2 linked regions of the Homo sapiens genome follow. The protein of the gene in region 1 purifies or fractionates together with the protein of each later gene. This does not show direct contact. Each region holds a gene or a part of one and is shown in the gene's direction. Other genes may lie near its edges.

Evidence for each region.
Region 2: the proteins of STK35 (region 1) and FKBP5 purify together in Homo sapiens (affinity purification with mass spectrometry; 2 studies listed by BioGRID and IntAct, with this or other methods). This does not show direct contact.

Annotation. Positions count from the first base shown.
Region 1 is NC_000020.11:2,104,689-2,108,340, forward strand, and holds part of STK35 (serine/threonine-protein kinase 35), read left to right. Parts: intron 1-3,652.
Region 2 is NC_000006.12:35,682,264-35,685,915, reverse strand, and holds part of FKBP5 (peptidyl-prolyl cis-trans isomerase FKBP5), read left to right. Parts: intron 1-3,652. UniProt on the Homo sapiens protein: Immunophilin protein with PPIase and co-chaperone activities. Component of unligated steroid receptors heterocomplexes through interaction with heat-shock protein 90 (HSP90).

The DNA of each region.
Region 1 (3,652 bases):
CCAAGAGAACGCTTTGTCCCATTGCAAGTCAGTTGTTTGACAGTGGAGTTGGAAACATGAATCAGTATCACCTAGAGTCCTTTAATTAGATGTCTAACTTTATAAAGTCCATCCGTGCCCCATCCATTCTGAGAAGCCTACCCTCTCCCCAGGGTGAGTGTTTTTGTTTTGAAAAGACTTCCAGCAGGGCACAATGGCTCACGACTGTAATCCCAGCACTTTGGGAGGCTGAGGTGGGAGGATGGCTTGAGCCCAGGAGTTTGGGAACAGCCTGGGCAACAAAGTGAGACCCTGGTCTCCACAAAAAATAGAAAAAAAAATAGCCGGACCTGATGGCACAGGCTTATAGTCCCAGCTACTTGAGAGGCAGAGGCAGGAGGATCAGTTGAGCCTGGGAGGTTGAGGCTACAGTGAGCCATTATCATGCAATGGCACTATAACCTGGGCGACTGAGCAAGACCCTGTCTCAAAAAAAAAAAAAAAAGACTCCCTAGGGGATTCGTTTATCTTACCTATATTCTAGGAGCGCATCACTTACTTTGAAGTCTTTCTATTCTCAGACTTCTCTTAGTCTTCTCCTTTACTGCCAATGAATGGTCTGGACTTCCTACTACAGGATTGCCTTGGGATGTAGGAATTTGCCTTGCCGAATGTTTATTCCTTGTGTCCTCAGTTCATTGACGCCAGTCTCGAACCTTCAACCTCAGCTTGAAGCTCTTGCTTACTCTCTCAACATATAAATACTATGTGGACTTTCCTCACCTGAAGAATTTGTCAAAATTCCAAAGTGACCCCATGGCAGCATAGCATAGTGGTTAGTACCATGGACTTTGGGGTTAGACCCTCTGGCTCATCCCAGGACTGACTGCACAAAACATGGAGCAAATTGTTTGAACCCTGTGAGGAGCATTCCTTTATTGTAAGATAGTGGGTATGTACCTATGACATTAGGTACATAGGGTCACTGTGCAAACTGTTAATGTCAGCAAGTGCTCCACATAGGGAGGAATTCACTGCCTTATATAAGTTCACACCATGTTCTGTACTCTTCTACCCTCACCCCCTTCAAGATTCACATTGTTCTTGCTCAAGTTTCCCAAACTTGTTTCATCATAGAACACACCTTGTTTTCTGTGTTGTCAGGCACACCAAGTTGACAGAAACACTGGTGTTTTCATCCTCCCTTTGTGAACTAAAACTGGGACCTAGAAAAATGAAATCTTTTGCTTTAGGCCGTACACTGGATTGGATTGGTCCCTTTCAGTTGTTTGGAGTCTTTAAAATATTTGAACCTCTACGGTGTTCAGGGCTCAGAGACAGAGCAGTGAAGAAAATATGTGTTGTTTCTGCTTATGAAAATGACATTCAAGCTGACTTGCAATGTGTGGATTTTTCAAGTAGTAAATAGGTAATCATTTTTGCTTCTTAAAATAGAGAACAGATACCAAAATTACTCCAGGTTAAACTTTGCTTATTCTGGATTCCAAAATTTAGGGGTCTTGATCTGTCCTGGGGCCTTGGGTTTACAGCATGCAAATACCACCCAGTAATGTTAAAGCTGGAAGGAATCGTAGAGATAACCTGGTTCAGCTCTCTCATTAAATAGAAAAGTCCTTTACAGTCACCCTTGGCCCTGCCTCCTAAAACTCAGAATGATTTTGAACAGGCCAAAAAGTGTGAATCTGCCTTGAAGTCTCAACTAAACCTAATGCTGAGTCCCTACTGTGGTATTTGAAGGGAAAGAAAAAAAGCAAAGCAAAACACACCACCCCTTGCCCCAATGGAACTTACATTTGAAAAGTTTGAGAACTGGAAGAAGATTTAAATGCTATTCAAGATCACTGGAGGAAATGACCAGTCAACTCATAAGCAAGGGCTTTGCACAAGAATTAAGAGGAAAGAGAATCAGGAGTTAGGGAGAAGGTGGGCTTGAAAGTAGGGTGCCTAGGACTGTGGATAGGCGAAGAGACAAAGGGAGTCCGTTTCACTATTTGGCCAGTAAAATAATCCAGTATCGAAAAGAGAAATGTCTTGAAATGCTGTTCTTGGTCTTACCCCATTTTGTTTGATAGCCTTAAATGCATTGTCTCCTTCCATTCTGTGCACAGACCAAACACGTCCTACCCAGAGGCATTAAGACAGCAGAAGCTTCGGAGGAATAGAAAGAGGTCTTAGATGTGTGACCTGGCTGCCTGTTTCACAAGGAAGGAAACTGAAGCCCAGAAAAGGGACAAAACTTTTATCCACAATGAGTTAGTGATAGCACTCAAACCAGCCTCCCAGGCTTTTTAAAACCACATTTACAATCCTGTAAATTATTTGGTTGAAGGGTTGGTGCCTATGTTTTTAACTTTGAAATACTTCTCACATAAAGGTTGGGGGGGTGAAGGCATCAACAGTTTGCTTTTATCCCCTTGTTTTCCATTGCGAGAATGCCTGTCCTGAATGTGCCTAAAACAAAGTTCAAGATTACTGCCACTTAGACAGCAGGCAAGCCTGAGTCACTGTCAGTCAGAAATTCTGTTGCTTTGTCTAAGGCACACACTGATTCTTCTGACAAATAGCAAGTGAGGACACACTCACAGACACTAATCCAGGACAAACTCTCAAGACTCATATAACAGAATAGTTAGAAGTTTGGGAGAGCCGGGAGCCTAGCTTACACTCAACTTGATAAGACACTAATTGTTCTTTACCAATTGTTTGATGTCGATGCCTTTAGGTGGCTGGGAACCGAGGCCTTGGAAAGTAATCTTGCCTGCACACCAAGTGGCTTTGAGCCAGGCTACTATAAGAGGCCATGCAGAGTTTTTCTCCACGAGGCATGCAGAGGACGCATGCCCACATGAACATAATGCAGGGTCACAAGTGGTAGCATCTTAGAAAATAGTACAGTTGTCTGGGAGTTTAGTTAGGGGCATTGGGGAAGCAGGGGAAGGAAGAAGCTGAGGGAGGAACTATAATAGTATAGGATAGACCAGGGTCTTAGCAATAGATGGGTTGTCAGCCTGCAAACTTCCCCAACTTGTCGAGTGCCTAGGGAACCTTCAGAGCAGAGCAAGGCCGTTCCCTCCCCAGCCCTTAGAAAAGCAACTCTGAATCCTCTTCTGTGGCTTGGGTCTCAGAGTTTAGAGAGCCGCCAGGTCAAGAGGCAGAGAGCTGGCTGGCATTGGGGAAATATAAGTTAACACAATACAATAAAATGCTAGACTCAGAGTCAGAAGGTTTTAATCCCAGTTTCACCCTGTAAATAAGAGCTGAAACTTGCAGGTTGCTATGTATCAGGTGAAGTCAGTACCGTGATTATCTTCATTTTATAGGTGAGGCAACTGAGGTACCAAGGTTAGTGAAATTGCCCAATGTAAAACAGCTAAGCAAGTAACCAAGTCAGGATTCAAGGCCAGACATTCAAACTTGAGTATGCTTTCTTAACTGCTGTGGGGTACTGCTGGGACAGGTAGCTTAAGTTCTAGGTTCTTCTGTTTTTCTTGGTTGTAAAATGGGCATAATCATATTTTACTCAGAAACTAATGGCTCAGGCCGTGTGCGGTGGCTCACACCTGTAATCCCAACACTTTGGGAGGCCGAGGTGGACGGATCACCTCAGGTCAGGAGGTGGAGACCAGCCTGGCCAAAGTGGTGAAACCCTGTC
Region 2 (3,652 bases), on another chromosome or scaffold:
CTGCCTCCCGGGTTCAAGCGATTCTCCTGCCTCAGCCTCCTGAGTAGCTGACACTACAGGCCTGCGCCACCATGTCCGGCTAATTTTTGTATTTTTAGTAGAGACGGGGTTTTGCCATGTTGGCCAGGCTGGTCTCGAACTCCTGACCTCAGGTGATCCACCCGCCTCAGCCTCCCAAAGTGCTGGTATTACAGGCGTGAGCCATCGCGCCTAGCCTAGTATTGCTTTATTTAACAGTAATATGCTTGCTGTACCCGGCATGAAGAATTCCTCTAAAGACCATTAATTAAAATAAGTTTTCATAATTCCTAAAGAATAATCTATATTATACATATTGGCACACTAAATTTTGTAATTCATGTTTAACAAATATCTGCATTTTATAATTCTGAAACTATTTGAACTTTACAACTTAGCTGATTAGTAGATTTTGTTTTTTAAGTATTTTATATTTCTAAATTTTTCTGCAGTACATTTTAGTGCATTTTAAAATTCTGACATCATATCCCCAAAAGTATAAAGAAAATTAAATCTACATTCAGTAGCGACTGGGTGGTGGTGGTATGTATGTCACATAACTATTGATTTAAAACAATAACCACTTAAGTGTAATTTAATTTGCAAATGAGATGTTTATTTACTATGTAAAAGACAGTACTGCCAAATGAGACTGGCTAAAATAATTTACAGTGGGGCCATATGTACTAGCAGGTTACTAACAGATTAATAAGGATATTTTAACAATATTTAGAACACTAAAATTCCACTACTCAAAATAATTTGTACTTCTTATAGTAGTTTGAGAACCTACATTTTATGCTTAATTTAGTATTTACTTCTAGTCTTTTTTTTTTTGAGTCGGGGTCTTGCTTTATTGCCCAGGCTGGAGTGCTGTGGTGTCATCATGGCTCACTGCAGACTTCCCAGGCTCAAGAGATCCTCCTGCCCAACCACCTGGTCTCAAGTGATCCTCCCACCTCAGCCTCCCAAGTAGCTGGGGTTACAGGCACACACCACCACACCTGGCTAATTTTTAAAACTTTTAATTTTTAGTAGAGATAAGGTCTCACTATGTTGCCCAGGCTGGTGTCCAACTCCTGAGCTCAAGTGATCCTCCTGCTTTGGCCTCCCAAAGTGCTGGGATTATAAGTGCGAGCCACAGTGCCAGGCCGACTTATAGCCTCTTGGAAAACATTTGGTTAATGAAAGTGAAGGTCCACCAGAGGGAGTGTGGGGTCTATATATTTGTTGTATTTGTTTTTTACCCTTGGTCTGGAATCAAAACATTTAAAAAATAAGAATAAGATTTTATTTTAGTTCTCTAAAACAATCAGTCAAAAGATATTGAAAATTGTGATTGTAGTTGTTTGGAGTTGCTGTCATTTTTGTTATCAAAATCAAGGCTTAATCAAGGCTGTTTTTCTTCTTAGAAAAAGGTGGCGAGGTGCAGTGACTCACGCCTGTAATGCCAGCACTTTGGGAGGCCAAGGCACGTGGATTGCTTGAGCCCAGGAATTTGAGACCAGCCTGGGAAACATGGTGAAACCTCCTCTCTACAAAAGTACAAAAGTTAGCCAGGTGTGGTGGAGTACACCTGTAGTCCCAGCTACTTGGGAGGCTGAGGTGGGAGGATCACTTGAGCCTGGGAGGTTGAGGCTGCAGTGAGCGGTGATTAAGCCATTGTACTCCAGCCTGGACAACAGAGCGAGACCCTGCCTTAAAAAAAAAAAAAAAGATACAATTACTGGAAAAATGAAAATGATGTATTTTCAAAGTGAAATAATGGGTTTTTAAGTAAACAGTCACACATCTGTGAAAGCTAAGGAATGTCCAAATTCTTTATTTTATTATTATTATTTTTTGAGACAGGGTCTTGCTCTGTTGCTCAGGCTGGAGTGCAGCGGTACAGTCTCCGCTCACTGCAACCTCCATTGGTTCAAGCGATTCTTCCTGCCTCAGCCTCCTGAGTAGCTGGGATTACAGGTACACACCACCACGCCCAGCTAATTTTTGTATTTTTGGTAGAGACGAGGTTTTGCCATGTTGGCCAGGGCCAGGCTGGTCTTAAACTCCTGATCTTAGGTGATCCGCCTGCCTCGACCTCCCAAAGTGCTGGGATTACAGGTGTGAGCCACCATGCCCAGCCTAGGAATGTCCAAATTCTGATAATGTTTTATAAGATTAAAAATATAGGCCAGGCCAGGAGGTCAGGCGTTGGAGACCAGCCTGGCCAACATGGCAAAACCCCATCTCTACTAAAAAAAAAAAAAAAAAAAAAAAAAATTAGCCAGTCATGGCAGTGCATGCCCTTAGTCCCAACTACTCAAGAGGCTGAGGCAAGCAAATTACTTGAACCTGGGAGGTGGAGGTTGGAATGAGCTGAGATTGCACCACTACACTCCAGCCTGGGCAACACAGTGAAACTCCATCTCAATAAAAAAAAAAGTATATATATATACCAGGCATGATGTCTCACACCTGTAATGTCAACACCTCAACACTTTGGGAAGCCAAGGCAGGAGGGTTGCTTGAGCCCAGGAGTTAGAGACCAGCCTGGGCAACATAGTAAGACCCCATTTCTACAAAAAATATAAAGTTCTCCAGGTGTGGTAGCTTGTATCTGTGATCCCAGCACTTTGGAAGGGTGAAGCAAGAGAATCACTTGAGCCCAGGAGTTCAGTGCTGCAGTGAGCCACCATACTCCAGCCTGGGGGACAGAGCAAGACCCAGTCTCAAATACACACACACACACACACACACACACACACACACACACACACACACACACACACACATATACGTATATATATACACACACACTTTTTTTTTTAAAGAAAGAGCTTGGGATATATATTTCTATACTTTTTTTAAGAAAAAGATTGGAAGAGACATATATATACACACAGACACATACATACATTTTAAAGAGATTGACGTATGTTTTTAACCTTTTTTTAAAAAAGAAATGGGATATATATATATATACTTTTTTTTCTTTTTTTTTTTTTTTAAAAGAGATTGTTTCTTGCTCTGTCACCGAGGCTGAAGTGTGGTGGCTAACTGCAGCCTCGACACAAACTCCTGGGCTCAAGCAATCCTCTTGTCTCAGCCTCCCAAAGTGCTGGGATCCCAGGCCCAAGCCACCATGCCTGGCTTAAAAATGTAGTACATTTGAATTGTATCCTTTTGAAATTGTTCGTTTTTTGGAAAGAAGAATAAGAGATGAAGAAAAATCAGACTGGAAGAGGGTTGTTTTTTCCCTTTTGTAGTTGCAAATCCTAAGTGGGCAGTGGTAAATTTCTAGAATCATTTGTAGCATTCTGTTTTAAACTTGGCAATTTAAAGATGTTATAAATGAGGAGTCCCCAGAAAATGGTCATTTCATTATCAAAAGCAGGGTTGCAAATTTCAGATTGATCTTTTCAAAAGTTAGATTTGTACTTGTTCTCAGTGTTCCTATCTCTGGAAACTAAAGAACCTCCTCCATTGTTAGCTGAAAATTGCACAGTGAATTTGAAAGTCAAGATGTCCCAGTCATGGACATAATGCTGCGATAGGTTACTTTTTGGAATGGAGAAAACATCTTAGAGATTGAGTCTGCATCAGAATATATTCTGAATGAGCATGGAATGTTCTTTACCCATGTTAGATA